4 linked regions of the Homo sapiens genome follow. The protein of the gene in region 3 purifies or fractionates together with the protein of the main gene of each other region. This does not show direct contact. Each region holds a gene or a part of one and is shown on either strand. Other genes may lie near its edges.

Region 1 (7,000 bases), on a different chromosome or scaffold from region 3:
TGTTTAAAGTTAATGTTTCCCCAGCAGCATTTAGTACAAGCAGTAGAATGCTCTAGTGGACTTAACCATAGCTAAATAAAACTTAATATTCTGTGTCTGTATTTGTTCTTTTCTCTATTCCATATCCTTTAAATTTCAACTCTTAAAACACTGTTGGTTCTGCCTTCACTTTTATTTCCATAAACTCTAAAGTCCTAGTGTCTATAAACTTACTTCATATAAAGCAGCTGTATTAGAAATATAATTAATGTGAGCCACACATGATTTGAAATTTTTTAGAAGCCATACAAAAAAAGGAACCATGAAATGTTAATAGTATAATTTATTTAACCCAGCATACCCCAAATAGTATTATTTCAACATAATCAATATAAAAACTAATAATGAGACATTTTATATCCTTTTTAAAATTTGTACTGTGCCTTCAAAATGTATTTTACACTTTAATAGCACATCTGAATTTGAACTAGCTACATTTCAGTGCTTAACAGCCATATACAGTAATAGATAATGCAGATCAAGAGAATTTCCAACTTTGTTTTACAGGTATTTACATACATCTTTGTAGCCACTCTTAGAGCTAAGTTCCATGGAAGAAACATGTTCTTGAGTACTTACTGTAGTTCAAGGGCACACTGAAGTGTTGTATGTAATTTTGTCATTTAGGCAGGGTGGTGGTTTTCCTATTCACTTCTCTCATACGTAAGAAGTATAAACTCATCCTTCCTTCTGAGAGTTTAGGAAATAATGTTATTGACAATCATCATCAAAACAACCATGTCTAGTGAATTAGAATTGCAATTCTAGATATTTCTTCACTCCACCCTTTTCTTTCTCTTCCCCCCACCCTTTTCTTTCTCTTCCCCACCTCCCGCCAGTAAAGGAAAATTTTTTGTTAGTTAATTGCTAAACTGAATATGTACCACATAGTACATTGCTTAGTTCTTGCACTGCTTTTCTCCTGTGTCGTTTGAATGACTAAGATACCAACTTTCCACAGGAAAGTGATGACCCCATGGCTTATATTCACTTTACTGCTGAAGGGGAAGTTACCTTCAAATCAATTTTATTTGTACCCACATCTGCTCCACGTGGTCTGTTTGACGAATATGGATCTAAAAAGAGCGATTACATTAAGGTGAGTTTTTAAGTAGTACATGCTGCGTTTAAAATTTGAAAGTTTAATTTCCAGAAAGTGACTTTTTTTTGGTCTCTTTAGCTCTATGTGCGCCGTGTATTCATCACAGACGACTTCCATGATATGATGCCTAAATACCTCAATTTTGTCAAGGGTGTGGTAAGTATCTGAAGTTTGGGAGAAGGGGTGATTGTTGTGGGGGTCTGGCAGTGTAGAGTGTTTGTTTGGCTTTGCTTTCTTCCAGTGGTTTTATTGCTCACTGAACTTTCTTTTGCCATCTGAAGGTGGACTCAGATGATCTCCCCTTGAATGTTTCCCGCGAGACTCTTCAGCAACATAAACTGCTTAAGGTAAGTGTCTCTGGGAAGAAACTCTCCACTTTGCTGTTTGATTGGGGTTCAGAGGACAGGCTCCATTTGTGGAGTAAAACCAGATTTTGGGTCTGGTCCATGATTCTTCAGATGAATTTCCTTTCTTTCTGGAGTTATCAGATCCTAAGAATCTGATTCTTTTTCTCCCAACATTTAATAATGAAGTTTCAAACATCTAGAAAAAAATTAAAGAATTGTACAGGTCCAGGATTAACATTTTGTCATCTAGACACATAGCCACCTTTTTATCAAGCCTTTCATTAAACCTTTCCCCTCCAATACTTCCATAATTAGAAGACTCTTTAGTTTTTGAATTTAAAAGTATTTGAAAGTAGCATATTTGTTCACTTCATTTAGATGCTAGAGAGAGAGTATCACTGAGTCCTAAGGTTAGAATATAAACATTAAGGCAATCTTGTGGCTATTTGCACGGACAGCTGAATTTCAGCCCAATCTGAATGAATTGGAGTGCTTCACCATTTCCTGCCCCTCAATAAATGGCAATAACGATATCGTCTTTGTGTTTTTCACACTCCTGCCTGGGTACCTTACATTCTCAAAAGTTGGAGATTAACTTCTCTAATCAGTTATTCTTTCATTGTGTTTAGGTGATTAGGAAGAAGCTTGTTCGTAAAACGCTGGACATGATCAAGAAGATTGCTGATGATAAATACAATGATACTTTTTGGAAAGAATTTGGTACCAACATCAAGCTTGGTGTGATTGAAGACCACTCGAATCGAACACGTCTTGCTAAACTTCTTAGGTTCCAGTCTTCTCATCATCCAACTGACATTACTAGCCTAGACCAGTATGTGGAAAGAATGAAGGAAAAACAAGACAAAATCTACTTCATGGCTGGGTCCAGCAGAAAAGAGGTGAGATGAACTCATAAGTGTTGTCAGCCATTCTGGAAGGTAGCTAGGGATTTATAGCCAACTCTTGAGGGGGAGAAAAGGAAAACTTAATTGTGTAACTGGAGTAGTTATAAGGCCTGGTCAGTCACTGACAGGAAGGTCATTTATATTCTCTGAACCTCTTAATTCTTCACCTGTAAAATGGAGTTTTTAATAATGTATAAACATAGCAGCTGCTAGGATAAACAAATACACCAGGGCCAGACTTGGAAAACTTTGTGACTTCTTAATTTTGTAGGCTGAATCTTCTCCATTTGTTGAGCGACTTCTGAAAAAGGGCTATGAAGTTATTTACCTCACAGAACCTGTGGATGAATACTGTATTCAGGCCCTTCCCGAATTTGATGGGAAGAGGTTCCAGAATGTTGCCAAGGAAGGAGTGAAGTTCGATGAAAGTGAGAAAACTAAGGAGAGTCGTGAAGCAGTTGAGAAAGAATTTGAGCCTCTGCTGAATTGGATGAAAGATAAAGCCCTTAAGGACAAGGTACTGTGGAAATTACAAATTGTGGAAATATTAGTATCAGCATTTAAGAGAAAGTTATTTTGTGAACAAATTAAGCTGCAGCTGGTTACTTTGTAACCATTAGAATGGTAAAAATTTAATTAATGTAATTAAATTATTGGGAGAAAGCTTAAAACTTTCGACAATACTGCTTTGTTAATAACTTGTTACAAATTAAATTTTATGTTTTTAAAAGGTGGTATTTAAACTTCTGACTAGAAAATTCAGATTATCAAGTAAGTGCCCCTACAAATTCTCCTAAACCTTAAGAAAAGCTATTTTTATGACCTGCTTCTGTGTTTATGATCTTAAGTGATAAAGTCTTAGACAGTTGAAAGACAATTGCTCAATGACCTTACCTGTTGATATTAATTTATATGACTTGATTTCTTTCCCTAAGATTGAAAAGGCTGTGGTGTCTCAGCGCCTGACAGAATCTCCGTGTGCTTTGGTGGCCAGCCAGTACGGATGGTCTGGCAACATGGAGAGAATCATGAAAGCACAAGCGTACCAAACGGGCAAGGACATCTCTACAAAGTAAGCATCCTCGGGAAAGTCCCTGCCAGGGCGTTGCCCCTTACCCAATCTTTGTTTTGGAGATAATACCAGCTTCAATACAAAGAGTAAAATTGCCTTAAATGTCTACCACTGTCTACTATAAGGTAGACAACAAGTTTACGAAGGGATTTCTCCTACATTTGATTGAGAAAGAAAAGGTCTTTGACTCATGATTTTCTGATTTTATTGTATTTGATATGTAAATGGGAATTTTCTTAATGTGTTATGCATAGTCTTTACTTTTGCATTGGATTATATGCTTAGCCTAATATCTGAATTTATTTTACATTTTTAAATGTAATAGCTGCACGAGGTTAATGACAACATTCCTCAAGTGAGTTAAGTCCATTTCAAATCACGTCCCCCACACCCCCAAGCATTAAATTATGGGTATCCAGATAGAATGTCTCATAAAGTAGACGGTACAGGACCTGTGAATTAACAGTATTTGAACTCAAGGGCCTATACCTGGAGGTATAGTGAGTCTTTGGTACTCTTTATTTTCAAGAAATATAGTATTTCAAGTTTATGTTTTAATGTCACAGCAATGATCTTGAAAATGACTTCTCCCCTACTTTTATTCTCTCTTCTTTCACCTGGAGTATGTTTCTGATATGCTATCTAGTCATCATCCTTTTTTCCCAAGGCCTAGCTTAAGGATTCTTTTTTTTTTTCCCCCGAGACAGAGTCTTGCTCTGTCACCCAGGCTGGAGTACAGTGGCGCAATCTCTGCTCACTGCAACCTCCGCCTCCTGGGTTCAAGTAATTCTCCTGTCTTAGCCTCCTGAGTAGCTGGGATTACAGGCACCTGTCAGCACACCCGCTAATTTTTGTATTTTTAGTAGAGACGGTGTTTCACCATGTTGGCCAGGCTGGTCTCGAACTCCTGACCTCATGATCCGCCCTCTGCGGCCTCCCAAAGTGCTGGGATTACAGGCGTGGGCCACTGCGCCTGGCCAGGATTATTATTCTTAAAGCCTTTTCTCACAAATGTAGTCTCCATTGTTGTCACAATTCTAAAATTCCATATATGTCTTTTAACTATAAATTTCATGCAGAGAATAGTGTTCTGTTTATCTGATATCCCATTGCAATAGTACAAGGGCCATTTAAAACATGTCCACCTATTAATTTCAGGAAATGATTAATAGGAAGTTACCTTGCATCCAACAAACATGAAGACTTACTATGTCCATGCACTGATGGTCACAGGTAGACATAACTCCTGTCTTTTCTAACATTTAGACTAGTGAAAATGACAAATCAAAGCCAGGCATGGTGACTCACTCCTGTTGTCACTCAGGAGGCTGATGCAGGAGTATCAGTTGATTCCAAGAGTTCGAGGCTGTAGTGTGCTGTAATGGCATTGCACTCTAGCTCTAGCCTGGGTAACATAGCCAGACTCCGTCTCTTTTTTATTTAAAAAAGAGGAAAAAAAGCAAGTCATAATCCGAGCCCTACATAGATAATGGGTACACCAGGATAGGGAAGGATGTGGTTCCTCCCTGTCCTCAGAGCTTTAAACTAGAGAAGAGAGAATAATCACAACCAACAGTAAAAAGCTAAGGATTTTGAAGGTATATTCAAAATGCATTTGGAACTGAGCTCAGATAAAGTTAATTTTTCTTGGAATCATTGGCGAAGGCATCGTGGAGAAGGTATTATTATTGGAGCACAATCCAGAGGCTACATAGATTTTTCTGAACTTGGGGAGGCAGAGCTACAATTACGGTAGTAAGAATAAACTAAGAGGGAACAAACAGGACATTAAATCAGTTCGTCTGTTCAGCAGTGCTCCAGGTACTTGGGACTCATCAGTAAATAAAATAGTTCCCTTCATTTCATTTTTCATCTAACCGTGTCCACTTGCTCCCCACCCCACCTCCCCGTTAAAAGGGAGCAATACAGGCTGGGCACATGGCTCACGTGTGTAATCTCAACACTTTGGGAGGCTGAGGTGAGAGGATCACTTGAGGCCAAGAGTTCAAGACTAGCCTGTGCAATATAGTGATACCCTGTCTCTATAAAAACTAAATAAGGAAACAGTGCAGTCATCCCTTTTTGTCCATGGGGTGTTGGTTCCAGAACATCCCATGGATACCAAAATCCACACATAGTCAAGTCCCTTAGGTAAAGTCGTGCCGTATTTGCATATAACCTATGCACATCTTCCCATGTACTTTAAATAATCTATAGATTACTTTTAATACCTAATGCAATTTAAGTGCTATGTAAATAGCTATTATACTGTATTGGGTTTTTTATTTTTTTCTTGTTTTGCCCTTTCTAATATTTTCAATCCGAGGTTGATTGACTCTGCAGATAAAGTAGACTGGAAAAGTACAGTCGTCCTTAGGTGTATGAGGGAGATTGGTTCTAGGACCCCTGCCAAAATCCACAAATATTCTAGTCCCCCAGTCTGCCCTGTGGAACCCGTGTATATGAAGAGTGGGAGCTCTGTGTGTGTGGATTCCACATCCCAAGAATACGGTATTTTCTATCTGAGTTTGGTTGCTGAACCTGCACATACGGAGGGCGGACTGTATTTATTGGAAAAAAAATAGCATATAAGTTCAAACCTGTGGTGTTCAAGTGTCAATAGTACATTTTGATTTTTTTTTTTTACCAAGAGTTGTTCTGTGTAATTATGAAAGAATAAGGGAAACGTATGAACCCTAAAATTGGATATGTTTTGTTAATGTTCATTTTTATCTCTTAACAGTTACTATGCGAGTCAGAAGAAAACATTTGAAATTAATCCCAGACACCCGCTGATCAGAGACATGCTTCGACGAATTAAGGTAGTATTAAAGCAGTCCTCTTGCTTGTCTTTTAATTTGAGTACTTTGTATCTTTTAATATTAATCTAGTGCATCTTCTTGCATTTCAGGAAGATGAAGATGATAAAACAGTTTTGGATCTTGCTGTGGTTTTGTTTGAAACAGCAACGCTTCGGTCAGGGTATCTTTTACCAGACACTAAAGCATATGGAGATAGAATAGAAAGAATGCTTCGCCTCAGTTTGAACATTGACCCTGATGCAAAGGTTTGTATCCCCAACCTTCCCGCAAAGGCTGGCTGGCTTTCTTTGTTTCTGTTCTTTCAGAATAGGCCTCTCATGATTGAGGGATGTAGCTTTGCGACATTTGCCTAATTTCTACCTTTTGAAAGAATTTTATTGAATGTTTGAATCCCTGTAGTGTCAGGCACTGCACTAGAAACTAAGTCCTCCTTTTACGTCCTCTTTCCTTTTTGCCTGCCTCCTTTTGTTAGCTTGGCTGTTCATTCTAGTTAAGAGGATTTAGTCTGTGGTTCTGAATAAACAGAAGTGACATTAATTATGATTTTATACATATAAATGAGCAAAGTGGAAATAAATCCAAGGCATTAATGGGCCCATAAATGTTGTGTTTAGGTGGAAGAAGAGCCCGAAGAAGAACCTGAAGAGACAGCAGAAGACACAACAGAAGACACAGAGCAAGACGAAGATGAAGAAATGGATGTGGGAACAGAT
Region 2 (7,000 bases), 1.6 Mb from region 3:
CAGGGATGCCTGATATAAAAGGAGAACACCAATCTGAGAATGGACTTGTGTGTGTGCACGTGAGAGATGGACGTGAGCTTTGTTTCTGTGTGTCCATGGGTGAGCGTGTTCCTGCAGGCACATGTGCAGGTGCATGGCGTCATCTGTGCAGATGCTTATGCCTCTGTGTGTGCGCATGTGCATACCTAGGTGTGTGCATGTGTGCAAGAGGTATGTGAGAATGTGCATATGTGTGAGGGTGTGGGGATCCATATGTATGTGCGCTTGTGTGTTCATGCACACACATGTGCATGTGTGACTTGAGGTGCGTCTCTGTGCACATGTATGCATTTGTGTGTGCACGCCTGTGTAAGTGTGTATGCAGGTCTGAACAGGTGCATATGCGTGTGCATGTGGCATGTGCATGTGTATTGTGAGGGAGTAAGTGGGTGGGCATGGGAACTCAAGTGTGGGCCTGAGCCCTGTGACTCCCATCCGCTCTCCCCACAGCTACATCGAGAACCAGCAGCATCTGCAGCATCTGGAGCTCCGTGATCTGAGGGGCCTGGGGGAGCTGAGAAACCTGTGAGGGAAACGGGGACTGTGGGTGTGGAGCTCAGCATGGGCCTGGGGGAGACCAGAAGGTCAGGGAGGGCTCAAGCATCCGAGGGCCTGGGAGGACCTGAGAGGCTGAGCACTGAGGGACTGGGAGAAGTCAGGAAGCTCAGGGCTTTGAGGGGTCTAGAGTAGTTGAGGAAACAATGAGGGGCCTGAGGAGGGGTAGGGGTTCAGCACAGGGGACTGGGAGGCTGGGATGGGCAGGGAGGGCCAGGGGCCCAGAGTAGCTGAGACCTGGGGACTGATCCTCCTGCACCCCTCCCCAGCACCATCGTGAAGAGTGGTCTCCGTTTCGTGGCGCCAGATGCCTTCCATTTCACTCCTCGGCTCAGTCGCCTGTGAGTGTGGCCAGTGCTGGGCAGTGGGAGTTGGGGAGGACACCCAGACTTGGGCTGCTAATGGGCTTGGCTGTCCCCGGGGAATGATTGCGAGGAGGGCCCAAGCCTGGTCAGGGAAGTCACCTCACCATTCTCCTGGGGCTTCCTCCCATCTCCCTCAGGGATGGCATGCTCTCGCCCCTGACAGCTAGAGGTCCTCCTTGCCATCTCACTTCCATGGTCCATGCTGCAAGGACACTTCTCATAGGTGCCTGCCCTATCTTTCTTCCCAGGGCTCAGATACACACCAGTGCAAAGGGAGCAAGCGGCAGGAGCAGGACTCCTGGGTTCTGGCTGGGACTCCATTTCCCAGGGACTCATTGACTTGGCCCCTAGGACATCCTGGGAGCTGGGGTGTTAGGTCTGCCACTTGTCACCCTCCTCATTCCTGGGAGTCATAACTATCCCTCCTGTAGAGCAGTGGACCCCAACTTTTTTGGCACCAGAGACTGGTTTCATGGAAGACAATTTTACCACGGATGGTGCGGGAGGAGAGGATGATTTCAGGACGAAACTGTTCCACCTCAGATTATGAGGCATTAGTTAGATTCTCAAAAGGAGCACACAACCTAGATCCCTCACGTGCGCAGTAGTTCACAGAATCTAATGCTGCCATTGATATGACAGGAGGCGGAGCTCAGGCGGTAATGCTCACTCACCGCTGCTCACCTCCTGCTGTGTGGCCCGGTTCCTAAGAGACCACATATTTGCCCTGTTTATAGCCCCTCTTCCTTGCTGTGCTTCTCTTTTTCTTTAATTTATTTTTTAAGAGTCAGGGTCTCCCTCTGTTGCTCAGGCTGGAGAATAGTGGCACTATTACCCATCTGTGGCCTGGGAATTGGGGACCCCTGCTGTAGGACAGAGAGGGTCATGGGATGGGCAGGAGAGACTATCAGAGTCCCTGGCAGCCCCTCCCTGGCCTTCTGAGGGCAGGAGTTCAGCTCCCCTGTCCCCCAATATGAGCAGGCAGAGAGATGGGAAGGATGGTGGGGCTGACACTCATGGAGTTATGCAGGGTCCTCTAAACTCTGCTGTGTCCAGCAATTTAACAAAGCAAAATAAAGTGATGTCATATCACCGTCTATGCACCGGGGCTTCAGTTAAAAACGTGCTCAATGACACTTCACGATACTTATGTCAATGAATCTTCACAATCAACCTGGTGAGAGAGAGAGTGTTCTTGTCCCCATTTCATAGATGAGAATTCTGAGAATCAGAGAGGTTGAGTTTCTGGACTGAGGTCACACAGCTGTAAGTGGCAGGATAGAACTTACACCTGCTCTAGCTGGCTCTAGAGTGGGTTGTGTCTTTGGTCCCTATGTGGTGGTACTTCTCCCACCCAGCCACCACAAATTCTAGGTTGGCTAGGAAAGAAGAGGGGTCAGGATAGGCCCCTCAGAGGCAGAGGGTCCCAGCAGCGGCAGCCTGGCACAGGGCACAGGGCACTGGGGCTCCTACATCATTTTCCTGTGTGGCCTGGAGCCGGGCCCCTGCTGGGCTCACTTTTTCCATCCATACAACGAGGGGGCTGGGGGTGTGGGGGTGTGGGTCCTTTCCTGCCTGACCTTTTAGTCCCTGAGGAGGGCCCGGAAGGAGGAGGAGGAGGGGAGCTGAGGAAGTGCGTGGAGTTCCTTGTGGTCAGGTAGGGGCAAGGGAGTGGCAGCCTCAACCCTCCCCCTCTTCCTCTGGCCCCGTCCTGGGCTCTGTAGGGAGGGGAGCACAGATGGACCCCTTCCCCCAGCTGTGGCCTCAGCACTTTGCCAGCTGGGGCCAAAGCAGTGGGGGAGGGAGGAGCGGCTGTTCCCTCAGATCCCCCTCCCTGGGGTCTGGAGAGGGGGTTAAGTGGGGTTAACCCTTGTTGTCCCAGGGAAAGGAGTGGGACTCAGAAAGTCCCCCCACCCCCCACCCCACCATCTACACACACTGCCTTCCAGGGCTGGTTCTGGTTGCCTAGGCCGGGGCGGGGGAGCCAGATGTCAACTTCTTTCTTGGCTCCTCCCCTCCCTCATTCTGGTCAGAGTGAGGTCGGGTCACTCAAGGGGTCTGTCTTGCTGTGTCTCCACGCCCGCAGGAATCTCTCCTTCAACGCTCTGGAGTCTCTCTCCTGGAAAACTGTGCAGGGCCTCTCCTTACAGGAACTGTGAGTGGGGGCGCTTCCAGGGGCAAGAGCACCAAGTGTGTGTGTGCCTGTGTGCACTTGGGTCTGTTGGATGACATTGGGTCACTGTGTCTGTGTGACACTGCTGGGGGGTCTCTTTGGGGACTATGTGCATGCCAGTGAAACCCCCATCAAAGCAGGGGCTGCAGGACTACCCGTTAAGGGGGCTACTGCCCTGAGGAGCTGGCCTGGATGACTGTGTGTGTGCTGGGCCTGGCTGAGCAGATTACAGGCCCACTGTGTGTCCAAGGCACATCTGCCCACATTCCCAGGGCACCCTGCACAGGGGTGAGTGGGGCAGCAGGGGTCCATGTGTACCTGGTGGGCACTTAAAGCCTCTGGGTCACTCTGGGGGGCTGTGCCCTTCCCTCCTTGTCACCATGCTGAGAGCCCTTGCCTGGTTTCTCATCCTGGGGAGCCTGGGGTGAGGGAGCCCCATGCATCCCTCAGACGTCAGCTGTCTTGTCTTCCACTTTCTGCATTAGATTTCTTTCATTTTTACGTTATTTTTTCTTTTTGTAGAGTTGGGGTTTTGCCATGTTGCCCAGGCTGATCTTGAACTCCTGGGCTCAAGCCATCCTCCGCCTCGGCCTCCCAAAGTGCCGGGATAACAGGTGTGAGTCACAGCGCCTGGCTTATTTCTTTTCTTTTCTTTCTTTCTTTTCTTTTCTTTTCTTTTTTTTTTTTTATGAGACGGAGTCTCGCTCTGTCACCCAGGCTGGAGTGCAGTGGCACAATCTCATCTCGGCTCACTGCAAGCTCCGCCTCCTGGGTTCACGCCATTCTCCTGCCTCAGCCTCCTGAGTAGGTGGGACTACAGGTGCCCGCCACCATGCCTGGCTAAGTTTTTGCATTTTTAGTAGAGACGGGGTTTCACTGTGTTAGCCAGGATGGTCTCGATCTTCTGACCTTGTGATCCGCCCGCCTCGGCCTCCCAATGGCCTATTTCTTTGAATAACATCCTGTTACTGGAGTCAGAGAGAAAGACCTCTGTGTCCTCCCTTTCACCTGTAGACGGTCCTCCCTGCTGCCTAACTGCTCCCTCTTATCCCCTGTGATCCCTCAGGCCCTTTCCTTGACTCTGTTGGTGTCCCCCATGCCCCCCAGGGTCCTGTCGGGGAACCCTCTGCACTGTTCTTGTGCCCTGCGCTGGCTACAGCGCTGGGAGGAGGAGGGACTGGGCGGAGTGCCTGAACAGAAGCTGCAGTGTCATGGGCAAGGGCCCCTGGCCCACATGCCCAATGCCAGCTGTGGTAGGTGCCGGGTGAGGGAGGTGGTGTAAGGGGGCTGGGGAAGAGACCTACCTGCCTGAGGGAGAGGGCACTGAGCAAGCACTGAAAAGGCCTGGGGAATGGGCACTGGCAAAGGCTGGGGGAAACTGCCTGGGGTGACATCGCCTGGGCTCCAGGTCATTGAGGAGGGTGGGGGAAGGAGCAGCCCCGCAGTAGAGTTCTGGGGCCACTCCCAGCTCTAACACCCCTTGGCCCTCGGGCGTCCTGGGTGGCCAGGTGTGCCCACGCTGAAGGTCCAGGTGCCCAATGCCTCGGTGGATGTGGGGGACGACGTGCTGCTGCGGTGCCAGGTGGAGGGGCGGGGCCTGGAGCAGGCCGGCTGGATCCTCACAGAGCTGGAGCAGTCAGCCACGGTGATGGTGAGAAGACCTTCGCTGGCAGCCCCCAAGAGGTCCAGGCAGAGCACAGGGGACAAAGATGGGGAAAGAGAGACACACTGTGGAGGAAAGAGACAACGAATAAGGAGCACACTGAGGTTGAGGGACGGACAGAGATGGTTTAGACCCACAGGGCTCAGGCCTATGCTCTGGGGCAGCCCAGGGCACGCACACACCCTCAGGGTGGGCACTGACCCAGCAGGGACCCCAGGCTATACTTGAAGCCCCAGGACTTAGAACCCCTTTCTGGGAACATGGTGTTGGCTGCAAGGGAGAGGGTCACAGAAACCTTACATGTTGGAGCTGAGAGGAACCCAACAGACCATCCCTCCCGTACATCACTTTTCTCTCTCCCTTCCTTCCTTCCTTCCTTCCTTCCTTCCTTCCTTCCTTCCTTCCTTCCTTCCTTCCTTCCTTCCTTCCTTTTATGGAGTTTCGCTCTGTTGCCCAGGCTGGAGTGCAGTGGCGCGATCTTGACTCACCGCAACCTCCGCCTCTCGGGTTCAAGCGATTCTGCGATTCTCCTGCCTCAGCCTCCCGAGTAGCTGGGAGTACAGGCACGCGCCACCATGCCCAGCTAATTTTTGTATTTTTAGTAGAGACAGGGTTTCACTACGTTGGCCACGCTGGTCTCAAACTCCTGACCTCGTGATCCACCCACCTCGGCCTCCCAAAGTGCTGGGATTACAGGTGTGAGCCACTGTGCCCGGCAGATCACTTTTCTATATAAGGAAACTGGAACCCAGGGAGGAGGCACAATATCAGTTGTACTGCATCCGGGATGAGTTCTCGGGGGTATCGTGGTCTTTTTTCTGGAGATTCTGGAAGCAGCATCCTCTTGGGCATGTGATGAACGTATTAGTAAGGGAGGCATAGGTCTGGCTCCAGCTCTCTCACTAATTAATTCTGGGAATGACTTTCAGAAAAATCCCTTAATCTGCCTGCACTTTGGTTTTCTTATCTGTAAGCTGAGAAGGTGGACATGATGGCCTTCTGATGTCCTGCCTGCCCCTGGGCGTTCTCTGGCCTCTATCTCTGTTATCCATACATGCCTTTGGACATCTTCCCAGGCCTTACCCTTTGTCCTTAGGCTGGCGATGGGCCGATGAGAGTAGCCACAGGTAACTCAGTCGGCCTTGTTGACGAGGTCAACGGCAGCTGACAATGGGCTGTGCCCACCCAAAAAGCTGGCTCCACCTGGGCAGGAGGAGTGGATATGCAGGGACCAGGAATGTGTGCCTGGGGGGCTGGGAGCATGGTGTTTATTTGGGGAGCCTTCACTTTGGTGGGAGAGTCCACCCCAGAATTGCTGGAGGCCCCTGGAACCATGTTGAGGGAGATGCCACTGGGGCGCTGAGCAGGGGGCTTCAGACATGGTGGAGGGACAACTAGCCACTGAGCAGTTCCTCCCTGCTCCAGAGAGCAAAGCTGCCTAGAGTGAGTAAAAGAAAGGGGACCAGGCAGAGGCCATACCCCTGCATGGAGAGACCTTAGATCAACTCTGTTTGGGGTGATTCCAGGATTTGCTTTCTCTTTGGGAGACTTACATGTTTGCTACCATCTGTGTTTTCTAGAAACTACCTATACAAAAGTCACTCCCTACTGGGCACAGTGGCCCATACCTGTAATCCCAGCACTTTGGGAGGCCAAGGAGGGATAATCACTTGAGACCAGCAGTTTGAGACCAGCCTGGGCAACAAAGCAAGACCCTATCTCTTAAAAAAAATTGCACCCTAAATGGGTTAAATGGAGGAGAAGAGAGGCTGCTCTCCCTCAGTTAGGAGGATAAGGGGTGGCAGACCAGCTCAAGGGGAAGAGTTATTGGCCCCACAGTAGTTGGAGGGGATGGGACAGCCAAGGGAAGCAGAGGGCAGGGCAGGGCTTCCCCTCGAAGTGGCTGGAACCCAGAGCTTGCACAAAAGGCTGGAAACTCTACTGGAACCTTTGAACTCACATATTCCAATGGAAGCCTGGGGAAACCATACCTCCTCTGGCATGTGGTCAGAGGATTCCACATTTATAAAGTTTTCGGATAAATGAGATTTATCCACCACTTCATTATTTTCATTTTGTGAAAATCACTTTCTAAAATGTCAGAAGATAATTTGTCCACCTCTTCAGCTTACAAAACAAACAAAAAACCCACAGTTCAGCAAGATGAAGAATTGTCGTAAGATCATGTAACTTACACATGACAAA
Region 3 (7,476 bases):
GGCAAGGAGTGAAACGGGACGCTGGGCCAACTGCAGGGCTCGGTGAATCAGGGGTATCTAGAGACAAAGGTAGTGAAGAGAGAAGCACCCAGAGTTGGAACACATACTAGCCCAACCAGTGCATCCGGTTCAGCCATTAGCCTCCACCCTCCCACCCCCAGGACAAAACAGCAGGGGACAAAATGTCTGTACAAGCAGACCTACCCTACAGTTTCTCAACCCCCAGACATCAGGGCCCTCAGGGCCTGAAAAAGCTAGAATGCCTACCTTGAGCTTGGTATCTTCCTCTGGGAGGCTGAAGTTGTGCAACTGGAAATCATCAGGGGTGTCTGCATAGGTGTAGGTGCGGATGGAGAAGTCACAGCTGGCCATGGGTACCCGGATGATGTTATATCCGATTCCTACAGAAAAGGATGATCAAGATATGGTAGTCCGAGTCAATAGGAGAGTATGGGACTCTGCTTATCACTTGCCAGTCCTAATAGTGTCTGAGTCAGGGCCAAAGGGAACTTGGGCTCCTGGGTTGGAACCTGTGGAGGCTGGCACCTGGGTGAAGCGCAGGCCTTTCTGAGCCTGAGTCCGTAGCAGTTAGCAGATGATAGGCGGTGAAATCTTATTTCACAGGGCATTAAAACAGGAACCAAATGTCAGGGATGGGCAGAAGTCAGGGTCCAAAGAAAGGGCAAAGAAAAGTGTCAGTGGCTCACGCATGTAATCCCAGCACTTTGGGAGGCCGATGTGGGCAGATCACGAGGTCAGGAGTTCGCAATCATCCTGGCCAACATAGTGAAACCCTGTCTCTACTAAAAATACAAAAAATTAGCCGGGCGTGGTGGCAGGCACCTGTAATCCCAGGTACTCGAGAGGCTGAGACAGGAGAATCACCTGAACCCGGGAGGTGGAGGTTGCAGTGAGCTGAGATTGTGCCACTGCACTCCAGCCTGGGTGACAGTGCGAGACTCTGTCTCAAAAAAAAAAAAAGAAAAAAGAAAAGTGTCTGCTGGGCTCGGTGGCTCACACTTGTAATTCCAGCACTTCGGGAGGCCAAGGCAGGTATATCATTTGAGGTCAGGAGTTTAAGACTAGCCTGGTCAACATGATGAAACCCTGTCTCTACTAAAAATACAAAAATTAGCCAGGTGGTAGTGGCGCACGCCTATAATTCCAGCTACTCAGGAGGCTGAGGCAGGAGAATCACTATAGCCTGGGAGGCAGAGGTTGCTGTGAGGGGAGATCACACCACTGCACTCCTGTCTCGCCGACAGAATGGGCAGAGTGAGATTCTGCCTCAAAAAAATTTTAAAAAAAGAAAAGAAAAACGAAAAGTTTCAATGGCTCTATGTCATCTTGTCCCCTTCCTCCTCACCTTCTTCAGAGAAGTACGATTTAAGTAGCAAATTTTGGGCAGGGGGTGACAGGGCAAGGATGTTGAGAGCAGCAGCATCTGTCATGGCCCCTCCAAATCCCTTCACTTTCTGGAACTTCTGTTCTGGCTGCAGGGTCAGTAGCAGGCCTGAGGACATCCACAGGGAATAAGGGTATCAGTACCCAGCGGGAAACTCCATGGTGATCACTGACACCATTTACCTCTAGGAGGACCCAGCCTGGCCCAGGGGGTGAGGGGTGTAATGGTTACCTGTGCCCGTGTGATTAGCCTGGATGGGCCCCATACTCAGCTCCATCCGTCGCCCACTGCGTGTACTCTCATAGCGGCTGAAGGTACCAAGGGCAGGAAAGGTCGGGGGGTCAAAGGAGTCACAGTATGTGGCATTGCAGACACACACCACCGAGCTGTAGCCGAAGCTTTTAGGGATGCAGGGGCGGGCACCTGGGAGGGAGGGAGTACAAGCAGAGTGAGGTCTGATGAAGACATGGAGAATGGACACATCTGCTAGGAGAGACTGAACACGGTTTCAAAATTCCTCACCCCTTGGCCGGGCGCAGGGGCTCACACCTGTAATCCTAGCACTTTAGGAGGCCGAGGTGGGCGGATCACCTGAGGTGAGGAGTTTGAGACCTGCCTTGCCAGCATGGTGAAACCCCGTCTCTACTAAAAATACAAAAATTAGCTGGGCGTAGTGGTGGCCGCCTGTAATCCCAGCTACCTGGGAAGCTGAAGCAAGAGAATCGCTTGAATCTGGGAGGCAGAGGTTGGAATGAGCCAAAATTGCACCACTGCACTCCAGCCCAGGCAACAGAGTAAGACTCTGTTTCAAAAGAAAAAAAACAAAATCCTCACCCCAAAGTTGGTCTCAGTCACTCAAAAGGATTTATTGAGCACCTACTAAAAGTCTACCACCAGCTTACTGGAAGGCTACCAAAGGACTATGAGGCAGAAGGGAGGCTCTGTGCTACCTCCCCACTGCCTTGACTCACTCACCTGATGCCCACGACACTGCCTGAAGTAGAAGCAATCCTGTGAGGCTGCCAGCCATGATGCTTACCCTACTCAAAGGCTTGGGACATTCCTGAGGACAGAATGAGGAATGACTGAAAAGCAAGCCCCTCTCCACCCCTCAACTACTCTCCTGGGCAGGGCTTAGCTGCCTTTGGGTGCCCATGGCCCGGTCTCCCACATTCATTAGGACAAGGCCCACAGAAACCTGGGTGCAGCTCTCCCTGCAACCCTTCTGATGACAACTCTCTGCCCACCCCAAATCAGGATGCTCCCCACCACTCTTCCCACCCATTTCAACTTCGACCCCTCCCTCCATCTGTGCCTTGCTCAAAGAGCCATGATGGCCCTGGATTCAAAGAGAGTCTGTCATTCATTAAATTCCAGTGCCAGGATTCCAGAAGCACTGTGACAATGCTGATTGGGAGCTCTCTCTCTTACCTCTCTGGAAGGACTTGAAAACTCCATCCCCTCAGGGTCATTAGATGAAGAGAAGACCACAGGGGTTCCAGAGTCTCTGAAGGATAGAGGATCCACTAAACAAAAACAAGGATGCAGGTACCTGCCTTAGCTATAGGCACTAGGTTAGCCCTGCAAGTAATTCCGGCTTCCCGATGTGGATGGGTCATGTGATGACTAGGAGCGTCACATGACACAGGAAGTGAGGCAATCACAGCCATATTTCTAAAGGGCAATTGGCTTCCTCTCATCTGTTACAGATTATATGCCCTATAAAACTCTGGAGGGCATGTATGGGTGACAACTTTAGGAAGAGCCTAGAACACAGATTTGCATGGAGAATGGGGTAGAGGCTCCTAAATCCCAGAGGATGGGAACCACAGCAGGCACACTTCTTTTTTGATAGAAATGTCAAAAAGGTACAAATAAAGCTGATATAATTTAAAAAAAAAAACTTCACTGTGCAAAATACTGACACTACCAAGATGTTTAAGACAGTCTTTGCCCTATAGAGGTGTGTGAGGCATGGAAGTCAGACACACAGATATTTACAGATAAAGACAGAAACGGTAACAGGTGTGCATGGAGAGCTCTCTGAGATGAGGAGGGACCATTCGTGGGTGGGGAATTATCCAGGATGGCTTCACAGAGGAAAAAGTGAGGGGGGTTATTAGCCAGTGAAGTGCAGGGCACAAGAGGGTGGGACACTGGCAGTGGGATGACAGGACTGGAGGGAGGGAGTGGTCAGTGCGGCTCCTCTGCAGCGTCCCTTGTTTCATCATCAGATGCAGATGGTAATAACTGTTCTTCCTTCCTCACAAGACAGGGAGGTTTGTAAAGTCGTTCAAAAACCAAAGTGTTGTACAAAGCCATATCCTCAGTGGACACAAGGAGGAAGCTGTCCATGGTGTGGCCTCATGAACCACATCAAATGAGATTTAGCGGGAGTGGCACACACAGTCATGACCTGACTAATCCCAGCTCTCAGCCCATTTCCTTGCCTGGAAAATGGAGGCAATGCCACAACCTCAAAGGGTGGTTACTGCAGTCAGTGAGGTAAGTGCAGTGCCTGACCACTTGGTAGGCACCTGGGAACTACTTGTCTCTTGTTTGTATTTTTTGTTGTTGTTGTTTTTTGAGACAGAGTCTCACTCTGTTGCCCAGGCTGGAGTGCAGTGGCGTGATCTTGGCTCACTGCAACCTCCACCTCCTGGGTTCGAGTGATTCTCCTGCCTCAGCCTCCCAAGTAGCTGGGATTACAGGTGCCCTCCAACATGCTCAGCTAATTTTTTTATTTTTAGTAGAGATGGGGTTTCACTATGTTGGCCAGGCTGGTCTGAAACTCTGGACCTCAGGTGATCTGCTGCCTTGGTATCCGAAAGTGCTGGGATTACAGGCATGAGCCACTGCGCTGGACCCCAGCCATCCTTTTTGTTCTTTAAATGATCTCAGTGAAGTCTTTCTAGATACACTCCAAGCAAAATTGATCATTTCTTCTTCTAGGTTCCTCCAGTAATTTTTTTTTTTTTGGTTTTGAGACAGAGTCTTGCCCTGTTGCCCAGGCTGGAGTGCAGTGTGATCTCGGCTCAAGCAATTGCCCTGCCTCAGCCTCCTGAGTAGCTGGGATTACAGGAGCCCACCACCATGCCCAGCTAATTTTTGTATTTTTAGTAGAGATGGGGTTTCACCATGTTGGCCAGGCTGGTCTCGAACCCCTGACCTCAGGTGATCCACCAGCCTCAGCCTCCCAAGGTGTTGGGATTATAGCAATGAGCCACCACACCCGGTCCCTCCAGTAATTAAGTACAGTCTCAGTGAGACAGCAAGTTTGGAATCCTGGCTACACCATTTACTGGCTGTTTGACTTTCAATAAATCAATCACTCTAAGCCTCTGTTTCATCTATAAAAGGGGAGTGATAACTCCTACCTCACAGAATTGTTGTGAGGTTTGAGTGTGATAATGTGTCTCTAGTACACTGCTTGACACTAAACATTGCAACATGTCAGGCCTCTGTTCCTGGAGTTCCTTGAAGGAATGTCTTATGCATTCTAAGTATCCTCGTAGATAGCCTGGCACAGGGGTAGCTGTCAAGTTGTAGAATTGAACTAGTTGCTTCACTATGTCAGTAGCCACCCCTTCCAGACTTCTCACTTTTCAAGGAAACATTGCACAGGATTTGTTCTGGGTAGGGCAGGTAATATCTAGTACCTTACTTCCCTCAAGTTCATTCATCTCACAGATATTTCCTGAGCACATTCTACATTTGCCTCTCCTGCTCTATTGAGTTTAGAAGTCCAAACATCTCCTTCCACTTCCCCTCTGCATAGTGAGCCTCTTCTTTTTTGGCCAGGTACTGAGCAATTTTTTGTTTGTTTGTTTGAGACAGGGTCTCCGTATGTTGCCCTGGATGGAGTGTAGTAGCTTGATTTCGGCTCAGTGCAACCTCTGCCTCCAGAATAAGCAATCCTCCCACCTCAGCCTCCAGAATAGCTGGGACTATAGGCGCACACCACCACACCTGGCTAATTTCTGTATTTTTTGTAGAGACGGGGTCTTACTGTGTTGCGCAGGTTGGTCTCAAACTCCTAAACTCAAAGGATCCTCCCGCCTTGGCTTTGCAAAGTGCTGGGATTACAGGGTGAGGCACTGCGCCCAGTCCGCTTGTTTTTTGTTTTGTTTTTTTTTTTGAGACGGAGTATCTCTGTCACCCAGGCTGGAGTGCAGTGGCACGATCTCGGTTCACTGCAACCTCCGCCTCCTAGGTTCAAGCGGAGGGTAGGGACCAGTCCATCCTGGCACCCATCTGCAGCTCCAGTGCGAATCCCAACCCCGACGCTCGTCGCCGGGCTCCGTGAATGTTTGTCACATGTCTGAAGAACGTATGAATTACATAACCTTCTTCCCACTCCACCCCTCAAAAAGCAAGTGGATATAAAGACTTGAAGATTTTATAATCTCTTCTTCATTAGTAAAATCTGACCATCCTTACCGTTAAAAATAATAATGATGGTTGGCCGGGCGCGGTGGCTCACGCCTATAATCACAGCTGTTTGGCAGGCCGAGGCGGGCGGATCACGAGGTCAGGAATTGGAGACCAGCCTGACCAACATGGTGAAACCCCGTCTCTACTAAAAGATACAAAAAATTAGCCGTGCGTGGTGGCGGGTGCCTGTAATCCCACGTACTTGGGAGGCTGAGGTCGGAGAATCGCCTGAACCCGGGAGGCGGAGGTTGCAGTGAGCCAAGAAGGCGCCATTACACTCCAGCCTGGGCGACAGGGCGAGACTCCCTCAAAAAATAATAATAATAACAATAATAATAATAATGGTGAAAAAGGTTAAGTGCGAACGCAGGGAGGGGACAGCTAAGATCCAAAGGTCGAAATATTCATTACGCCTACCGTCGGCGAAGAGAAACAGCAGCCCCAACCGGAGGCAAAACGAAATCCCACCGCAGCCTGCAAAGGCGCCTGGGCGGGACTGGAGACTGGGGCCCCGCGCAGTAAGACTCTGAAGGCAGGATGCAGCCCGACCACCCGCAGCCGCGAGAAAAGCAGCCCTGGGGAGTCGGGGCGGGACCTGGATTGGAAAAGAGACGGTCACTCATGCAGAGGCGGGACTCAGAGCCCTTCCTCAAGTCTCATTGGTCAAGTTGAACGAACAAGTGTCGCTGGCGAGCCGGAGAGAGAGAGAGAGCGAGAGCGAGAGAGCGAGCGAGAGAGAGCGAGAGAGCGAGAGAGCGAGCGAGAGAGAGAGAGAGAGAGAGAGGAGCCGGCGCGAGAACTACGCATGCGTGTCGGCGTTTTCCCGCCAGCACACTGTTGGTGGATGGGGGCGATTGAATTCCCACAGTGAGTCCAGCCCACCGAAGCTCAGAGGATTCCTAACCTTCCTCTTTAGAGAGCCTCAGGTTAGGGAACGTCCAGTGCGCAGAAGCTGCCCCGTGGGAATCCCATTGTCCATCGCCTCCTAATGTTTCGTCCTGGCCGTGCCCTATCCCTTCCTGAGGCTGGGTTGTTATGATGCTGAATTATTCAAGAAGTCTTGCAGCCTGACGCCATCTCTGGGCAGTGCTCCTCCCACCTCCCTGTCTTCCTTGGAGGGCACCACGTTGCCCCTACAAGCACAGGGTCCTGAAGCTGTTTACAGGGCCCCACCCTGCCACTTTAGTATCTTAACGAATGTTTGTTGAGGACCTACTGAGTGTTAGACCCACTGCAATGAGCAAGTTTCTGATCTTGGGACCTTAACATTCTATGGGACGACACAGATATATAAACAAAAATAATAATTTTAGATAGTGATACATGCTGAAACCATGGGTATGTGGCCAGGCGCGGTGAGTCACACCTGTAATCCCAGCACTTTGGGAGACCGAGGCAGGCGGATTACTTGAGGTCAGGAGTTTGAGACCCGCCTGGCCAACATGGTGAAACCCTATCTCTTCTAAAAATACAAAATTTAGCTGGGCGGGCATGGGGACGGGCGCCTGTAATCCCAGCTACTCGGGAGGCTGAGGCAGGAGAATTGCTTGAACCCAGGAGGTGGAAGGTTGCAGTGAGCCCAAATCACACCACTGCACTCCAGCCTGGGTAACAAAGCAAGACCCTGTCTCAAAAAA
Region 4 (8,263 bases), on a different chromosome or scaffold from region 3:
GCCTGTAATCCCAGCTACTCAGGAGGCTGAGGCAGGAGAAGCGCTGGAACCCGGGAGGCCGAGGTTGCTGTGAGCTGAGATCCTGCCATTGCACTCCAGCCTGGGCAACAAGAGAGAAACTCCGTCTCAAAAAAAAAAAAAAAAAAAAAAAAAGGAATGAGAGCGAACAATACAGCCAGGATGGCTAAAGGTGACCCCAAGAAACCAAAGGGCAAGATGTCTGCTTATGTCTTCTTTGTGCAGACATGCAGAGAAGAATGTAAAAAGAAAAACCCTGTCAATTTTGCAGAATTTTCCAAGAAGTGCTCTGAAAGGTGGAAGACAATGTCCGGGAAAGAGAAGTCTAAATTTGATGAAATGGCAAAGACGGATAAAGTGCACTGTGATCGGGAAATGAAGGGACCAGCTAAGGGAGGCAAGAAGAAGAAGGATCCTAGTGCCCCCAAAAGGCCACCATCTGGATTCTTCCTGTTCTCTTCGGAAATCCGCCCCAAGATCAAATCCACAAACCCTGGCATCTCTATTGGAGATGTGGCAAAAAAGCTGGGTGAGATGTGGAATAACTTAAATGACAGTGAAAAGCAGCCTTACATCACTAAGACGGCAAAGCTGAAGGAGAAGTACGAGAAGGATGTTGCTGATTCTAAGTCGAAAGGGAAGTTTGATGGCTCAAAGCGTCCTGCTAAAGTTGCCTGGAAAAAGGTGGAAGAGGAAGATGAAGACGAGGAGGAGATGAGGAGGAGGATGAATAAACAAAGTGTTTATCTGTCAAAAAAAAAAAAGTAAATGGATAAAAATGTGAGTGCTCCCTCTCTCTGTGTGCCCACTTTCTCCTTCAAGCAAAAGGTAGGCATGAGCAAGGATGAGGGTGGCTTTGAGGGAAGGATGGAGAGACAAGCTATGAGAAGAAGCTGGATACGAAGGATAAATGGATCAACAATTTTGTTTACTCTTTTAAACATACTGCCTATTTTGAAAAAAGTACAAAAGCTAAAGCTAAAATTTATTCCTTTTTTAAGTTTTTATTTCTTTCATTTATTTATTTATTTTTGAGACGGAATCTTGCTCTGTCTCCCAGGCTGGAGTGCAGTGGCGCGATCTCAGCTCACTGCAAGCTCCGCCTCCCGGGTTCACGCCATTCTCCTGCCCCAGCCTCCCCAGCAGCTGGGACTACAGGCACCCGCCCCACACCCGGCTAATTTTTTTGTGTGTGTGGTTTTTTTTAGTAGAGACGGGGTTTCACCGTGTTAGCCAGGATGGTCTCGATCTCTTGACCTCGTGATCCACCCGCCTCGGCTTCCCAAAGTGCTAGGATTACAGGCGTGAGTTTGAGGCGGAGTTTCACTCTTGTTGCCCAGGCTGGAGTGCAATGGCGCAATCTCAGCTCACCGCATCCTCTGCTTCCTGGGTTCAAGCGATTCTCTTGCCTCAGCCTCCCGAGTAGCTGGGATTACAGGCATTAGCCACCATGCCCGGCTAATTTTGTATTTTTAGTAGAGACAGGGCTTCTCCATGTTGGTCAGGTTGGTCTCGAACTCCTGACCTCAGGTGATCCACCCGCCTTGGCCTCCCAAAGTGCTGGGATTACAGGCGTGAGCCACTGTGCCTGGCCTATTTTTATTTATTTATTTATTTTTATTTTTATTTTTTTTGAGACGGAGTCTCGTTTTGTCGCCCAGGCTGGAGTGCTGTGGCGCAATCTCCGCTCACTGCAAGCTCCGCCTTCCGGGTTCACACCATTCTCCTGCCTCAGCCTCCCGAGTAGCTGGGACTACAGGCGCCCGCCACTGCGCCCGGCTAATTTTTTGTATTTTTAGTAGAGATGGGGTTTCACCGTGGTCTCGATCTCCTGACCTCATGATCCACCCGCCTCGGCCTCCCAAAGTGCTGGGATTACAGGCGTGAGCCACTGTGCCTGGCCTATTTTTATTTTTTTAGACAGGGTGTTACTCTGGTACAGTGGCCCAATCTTGGCTCACTGCAGCCTTGACCTCTTGGCCTTAGACAATCCTCCCACCTCGGCCTCCTGAGTAGCTGAGACTACAGGCTCAAGCCACTATGCCAAGCTAATTTTTGTATATTTTGTAGAGATGGGGTCTTGTCATGTTGCCCAGGCTGGTCTTGAATCCTGGGTTCAAGTGATCCACCCACCTTCGCCTCCCAAAGTGCTGAATTAGAGGCATGAGCTACCTCACCCGGCCTGATTCTTTGTTGAAAAAATCATATGCATGTTTAAAGAAAGTGTCATTTCTTTTTTTTTTTTTTTTTTTTTTTTTGGAGACAGAGTCTGGCTCTGTCACCCAAGCTAGAGTGCAGTGGCACAATCTTGGCTCACTGCAACCTCTGCCTCCCGGGTTCAAGCGATTGTCCTGCCTCAGCCACCCGAGTATCTGGGACTATAGGTGTGCACCAGTATGCCCGGCTAATTTTTGTATTTTTAGTAGAGATAGGGTTTCACCATGTTGGCCATACTGGTCTTGAACTCCTGACCTCAGGTAATCCGCCCGCCTCAGCCTCCCAAAGTGCTGGCATTACAGGCGTGAGCCACTGTGCCTGGCCAAGAAAGTATTTCTGCTTCTAGAGTTTCAGGCCCCCTCTCCAGCATTAACCTTTCCTAGCAGTTTCTCGTGTTTCTTTCTAGTAAGCTTGTTTGGCCAAGCTTACATGTATGAGAATACATCTCCCTTTTCAGTATGAAAGGAAACACACCTTTCTCTGTGCTTTTTCACATGACACTAAATCTTGACTGTTGCTCCATGTCAGAATGTAAACAGGCTGTAAACCTCTTGTTACTGCACTTCCTTTTATTGGTTTTCACAGATGCTGTGTTTTTACAAATTGAATGTGGCAACCCTGCATCAAGTAAGTCTATAAGCACCATTTTTCCAACAGCACGTACTCACTTCTGGTCTCTGTCACATTTTGGGAATTCGTATAATATGTTTTCATTATTATATCTGTCATGGTGATCCAGGTTGATGTTACTATTGTAATTGCTTTGGACTGCACAAACGATGCCCATGTAAAACATCTGTTTGTTTTTATTATTTATTTATTTAGAGACGGGTTCTCACTCTGTTGCCCAGGCTGGATGAAATGCAGTGGCCTGATCTTAGCTCACTGCAGCCTCCTCAATCAGGAGTCAAGGATACTCCTGCCTCAGTCTTCCTAGTATCTGGGTCTACGGGTGTGCACCATGCCAGGCTAATTTTTTTATTTTTATGTTTGTAGAGACAGGGGTCTCACTATGTTGCCCAGGCTAGTCTTGAACTCCTGGCCTCAAATGATCCACCTGCATCAGCTTCCCAAAGTGCTCAGATCACAGGGAGAGCCACCTCGCCCAGCCAATTCTGACCTCTTTGCCAGTCCATTCTGGATGGAAGCAGTCCCTCCCCTTCAGAATCCCATTGAATTCTCCATAGTACCACAGTCTTTTGGCACTTACCTTTGCAGGAGTAGCTCTTTTGCTCACAAATGTACTTCCTGTAACTACATTTTAAGCTCATTATTTGGATCATGTAGCATCCAGAATTTTATTCTGCTTTGAATAGCTGCTTCCCCAGGTAGACAGGAAACCAAAATTCTCCTACACAAATTTTGGGGCTGAAGTTGGGGCGCCGTGGCTCACGCCTGTAATCCCAGCACTGTGGGAGGCAGAGGCAGGTCGATCACCTGAGGTCAGCCTGGCCAACATGGTGAAACCTGTCTCTACTAAAATACAAAAATTAGCCGGGCGTGGTGGCGGGCGCCTGTAATCCCAGCTACTCGGGAGGCTGAGGGAGAATCGCTTGAACCCGGGAGGCGGAGGTTGTAGTGAGCTAAGATCGCACCACTAGACTCCAGCCTGAGCGACAGAGCAAGACTTCGTCTCAAAAAAATAAAAATAAAAAAAATTTGGGGGTTGAGGGTTGGATGATACTAACTCATGCAAACACCAAACCCTGCCTTTCTTCCCCTTCCCGGTGGCAAGAGGGCTTTTCAGATCAGTGATACATTCGCTGATTCTAGTGTTTTCCACCCTAGTAGTCAAGCCTTTGGGTGTCCAAACAAATAGAGAACAAGAGATCAGGATCTCTAAAGGTCTAGAAAAACCCTGGGCCACTTCCATTTTGTGAGGTTCTCAGCATACTGAAAACTGAAGATGTACTAAGAGTGGGTTACTAAAATGGTGGCGTATCTTAAATCTTTCCATGGCACCATCCTTTCTCTCGTCCTGTCATCCCTGTATCTCTCTGCCCTGACACCTAATCTCACTTCAGGAAACATAAATTGAAAGTTCAAATAACCTCGGATTATATTATTCTGGACTGTGTGTTATGCTGGGCGACGAGGCTGCGCAGGCTCCTGGGCCGAGCCATGACTCTGCAGGAACTGCGGCGCCGGCTCACACAGCGCGGAGCAGTGCACGCCAATCCGGCCAGGCGCTCGCGCTGGGTTCTGCTCACGCCCGTAGGGGCCCGCGTTCGCTGCAACGGGCCCTTCCTGATGGCCGATCGTCGGACTCCTACCCCTTTTGCCGGCTGCCGTTTGCCCCGTCAGCGAAGGGCGCGCGATGCGTCCCAAGTCTCGGCTCCAGGAACCAGACGGGTGAGGGCTACTGGGGGTTGGGTTGGAACGCCCCGAAGGCACCACAGCAACCGACGCGGGAACGCCTGTTAAACCAGCCCCGCCCCGAGACGCGCGCGCCCGGCGGTCTCGATCCAGCGTGGCCCGCCCCTCACCTCCCGCCCAACCAACAGCCACTTCCTGCCTCACTCCCGGCCAATCTTCACACTCCACGAAGAATAGCCGTAGGGGGCGTATGGGACGGTGCGTAGAGCGATGCCCACGCCGGCCAACCGGATGTCGGGGCTTGCGCGGGAGGGCGGGACTTGGCGCCGGCTGTGGCTACTCAGGGGCCAGGGGCGGGCACAGGGCCGGGCTTCGTGCGGTGGGGCTCGCTCGCGCGGCAGCGGTGGCCGAGGCCTCTTGGTTCTGCGGCACGTGACGGTCGGGCCGCCTCCGCCTCTCTCTTTACTGCGGCGCGGGGCAAGGTGTGCGGGCGGGAAGGGGCACGGGCACCCCCGCGGTCCCCGGGAGGCTAGAGGTGAGAGGGGAGACCTGAGCGCGTCCTCGGGCCTGTGAGGACCTCGGGGGGCTGGGAGCGCCTCTGCGGCTGAGGGGTCGGGCGTGGCCGGCGACTGAGGGGTCGGGCTGGCTCTTGAGGGCCCAGGCCCTGGCCGACGCGCCCGCCGTGAGCGAGGAGGCCCGAATCCGGGCGTCTTTGGTTGGGTTGCGGGCCCAGGCCGCGCCGCCGGGGTCGGGAGGCGTGGCAGGTGGCCCGACAGCCTTCTTTGACCTCTGGGAAAGCTGACTTATTCCTATGGCTTTGCTTCTAGGGCTTTCTTAGGCCTCTTTGCCGGCTGCCTGGGCAGCCGCGAGGTGGGCTGGAGTAACTGGGTAAAAGTATAGGGTGGAATCGGGCCTACTAGGTACCCCTAGTAGTAGGGAAGGGTGGTATTAGACCGAGAGGGAATGTTTACAACTAGCGTTACAGTTTAATATTTGAAAATCCAAAGCGGAGACTGGACCCTAGTTCCCTGAAGAGAAAGGGGAATGTACCAGAAGGAGAACACGCAGTGGTTGAGAAACTTAGCAGTTACAGCACCTATTCTGGAGGCGAGTAATCCAGTTGGAGAGGGACAGGGCGTTAAAAGCAGGAAAGCCCCCGAAAGCTCATCTAAGTGCATCTCTTTCCACACCGGAGGCCTGGAGGTATGAAATGACTGGCCCAAGGTCATGCGATTAGTGTACTGATGGTGCTGGGATTATAGTTCAGGGATAGACCGTGCAGTGGTTAACGCTAAGGCCCTGGCTCGAGTCTTTGATTGGTCATTGGTTGCTCTGTGAACTTCGGCAGTTTTCTTACCCTTTGTGCCCCCGTTCTTGTCAAGTAATGGATATAATAATACCCGATGGATTTGTGAGGATTAAATTAAGATATGTATACAATAAGACAGGGAAGTCCGACATTTAGTAACTGCTCGATGATCATTGCGGTACGTTATTATAATCTGAATGCCTTTGGACCAATACACTGCCATCCTAGTGAACTGGTTCAGTCCTGTTTCGCAGGACCTGAGGTCACAGTTATGGTGATAGAAGAAACCGGGCATTGTGTATTACCGCTGGGCATGACACAAGTGATTGCTGGTTGAGGGAAGTTAAACTGAGCTTAATATTAAAAGATTGAGAGGACAAGATTAACCATAGTTAAGTCTTTTTACCTCTGATTTAGGAAATGGAAGATTTTGCTTAATTTTTTAATAAGTAGATTTTTTTAAGGGGGAAGAATTTTATTGATCTTTAAAATCATTCTGTATCTCAGTCTTTTCCCAACATTGTTTGAGGGTCATGAATAGAAGCAACTGCCATATGGATCAACTGTTGTACATTTGGTATAATTATACTTAGAGCAGAGGTAAAGGACTATGTGGGAGTTCTCCTGTGCATCAGCCAGGGTGCACACACAAGCCAGGTAACTGGATCATGAGAATGCTCGAGTGAACTGTGTGTGGGGGTCAGTGTTGCACAACAGAAATTTTCTGACTTATCTGCAAATGGCTGTCAGCATTCCCCGACACCTTACTATCCTTACTCCCCAGTTCATTTAGCGCATTATCTTCTCAGGGCCACAAGGGATAAGTGTTTTGACAGAAGTCGTTGCTGCCGTTTTGGCAATCACACTATTGCATCCTTTTAGTTAGAGTTCTCTTTGCCCTGGAAGACAGCTTAAGGGGATGAAGTGGCAGTTGGTGAGCATGAATTGCAGGCTCATGAAACTTGAATTGTGTGCCCAGTGTGGTAACCTTTTTTTTTTTTTTTTAGACGGAGTCTCGCTCTGTCACTCAGGCTGGAGTGCAGTGGCGCGATCTCGGCTCACTGCAAGCTCCGCCTCCCGGGTTCACGCCATTCTCCTGCCTCAGCCTCCCTTGTAGCTGGGACTACAGGTGCCCGCCACCACGCCCGGCTAATTTTGTTTTTGTATTTTTAGTAGAGACGGGGTTTCACCGTGTTAGCCAGGATGGTCTCAATCTCCTGACCTCGTGATCCGCCCACCTCGGCCTCCCAAAATGCTGGGATTACAGGCGTGAGCCACTGCGCCCGGCCCAGTGTGGTAGCTTTTGTCCCACTTTGGTTTCCGTAACTTCAAAATAGGAATGAGAAGTCTCCTGGGTTCCTCACCTTTAGGGGGCAATTGGGAGGGGCAGATAAAATGGTGAACATGAAACTACTTTAAAAAGTGTAATGAATTGGCTGGGCACGGTGGCTCTCACGCCTGTAGTTCGAGCACTTTGGGAGGCTGAGGTGGGCGGATTACTTGAGGCCAGGAGTTGGTAACCAGCCTCGCCAAAATGGTGAAACCCTGTCTCTACTAAAAATACAGAAAATTAACCTCCAGCTACTCGGGAGGCTGAGGCAGGAGAATCACTAAACCTGGAAGGCGGAGGTTGCAGTGAGCGGAGATGGTTCCATTGCACTCCAGCCTGGGTGACAGAGTGAGACTCCATCTCAGGAAAAACAAAAAAAAAAGTGTAATGAACTGTGCAAATAGAATACGCCGTTTATAATAACTCCTAGGAAATAATAAAAGTACCTAAACAGTTAAAACCTATACAGCTTTTGGTAAAACTTTTCAGGAAAGTCCTGGTTGAATTCTTTGTTACTCCAACAGATGTACTTTTTTTTTTTTTTTTTTTTTTTTTTTGAGACGGAGTCTCCCTCTCAGGCTGGAGTACAGTGGTGTGATCTTGGCTCACTGCAACCTCCGCCTCCTGGGTTCAAGCAATTCTCCTGCCTCAGCCTCCCAAGTAGCTGGGACTACAGGTGCCCACCACCACACCCGGCCCGGTTTTTTGTATTTTAGTAGAGACGGGGTTTCACCGGGTTGTCCAGGCTGGTTGCGAACTCCTGAGCTCAGGCAGTCCGCCCACCTCGGCCTCCCAAAGTGCTGGGATTACAGGTGTGAGCCACCGCGCTCAGCCTTACTTATTTTTTTAGAGACAGGGTCTTGCTCTTCATCAGGCTGGAGTGCAGTGGCGTGGTTATTGCTCACTGCAGTCTCAAACTCCTGCTGTTATTGGTTCAAGTGATCTTCCTGCCTCAGTCTCCTGAGTAGCTGGATCCACAGGCGGATGACGCTACACTCAGCTAATTTTTTTTTTTTTCCTAATTTTTCATAGATACTTCGCTTTGTTGCCCAGGCTGGTCTCGAACTCCTGAG

Evidence for each region.
Region 1: the proteins of GBA1 (region 3) and HSP90B1 purify together in Homo sapiens (affinity purification with western blotting; 2 studies listed by BioGRID and IntAct, with this or other methods). This does not show direct contact.
Region 2: the proteins of GBA1 (region 3) and NTRK1 purify together in Homo sapiens (affinity purification with mass spectrometry; 2 studies listed by BioGRID). This does not show direct contact.
Region 4: the proteins of GBA1 (region 3) and CANX purify together in Homo sapiens (affinity purification with mass spectrometry; 3 studies listed by BioGRID and IntAct, with this or other methods). This does not show direct contact.

The regions. Positions count from the first base shown.
Region 1 is NC_000012.12:103,940,410-103,947,409, forward strand, and holds part of HSP90B1 (endoplasmin precursor), read left to right. Parts: intron 1-1,000; coding exon 1,001-1,138; intron 1,139-1,219; coding exon 1,220-1,297; intron 1,298-1,422; coding exon 1,423-1,488; intron 1,489-2,117; coding exon 2,118-2,387; intron 2,388-2,664; coding exon 2,665-2,910; intron 2,911-3,328; coding exon 3,329-3,465; intron 3,466-6,208; coding exon 6,209-6,287; intron 6,288-6,376; coding exon 6,377-6,532; intron 6,533-6,901; coding exon 6,902-7,000.
Region 2 is NC_000001.11:156,863,865-156,870,864, forward strand, and holds part of NTRK1 (high affinity nerve growth factor receptor isoform 2 precursor), read left to right. Parts: intron 1-489; coding exon 490-564; intron 565-863; coding exon 864-935; intron 936-3,045; coding exon 3,046-3,114; intron 3,115-4,239; coding exon 4,240-4,385; intron 4,386-4,640; coding exon 4,641-4,783; intron 4,784-7,000. UniProt on the Homo sapiens protein: Receptor tyrosine kinase involved in the development and the maturation of the central and peripheral nervous systems through regulation of proliferation, differentiation and survival of sympathetic and nervous neurons.
Region 3 is NC_000001.11:155,238,250-155,245,725, forward strand, and holds the start of GBA1 (lysosomal acid glucosylceramidase isoform 1 precursor), read right to left. Parts: upstream 3,001-7,476; 5' UTR 2,864-3,000; coding exon 2,837-2,863; intron 2,469-2,836; coding exon 2,381-2,468; intron 1,829-2,380; coding exon 1,637-1,828; intron 1,514-1,636; coding exon 1,367-1,513; intron 402-1,366; coding exon 268-401; intron 58-267; coding exon 1-57. UniProt on the Homo sapiens protein: Glucosylceramidase that catalyzes, within the lysosomal compartment, the hydrolysis of glucosylceramides/GlcCers (such as beta-D-glucosyl-(1<->1')-N-acylsphing-4-enine) into free ceramides (such as N-acylsphing-4-enine) and glucose.
Region 4 is NC_000005.10:179,694,017-179,702,279, forward strand, and holds the start of CANX (calnexin isoform d precursor), read left to right. Parts: upstream 1-4,950; 5' UTR 4,951-5,086; intron 5,087-5,558; exon of another isoform or gene 5,559-5,595; coding exon of another isoform or gene 5,596-5,754; intron 5,755-6,458; exon of another isoform or gene 6,459-6,517; intron 6,518-8,263. UniProt on the Homo sapiens protein: Calcium-binding protein that interacts with newly synthesized monoglucosylated glycoproteins in the endoplasmic reticulum. It may act in assisting protein assembly and/or in the retention within the ER of unassembled protein subunits.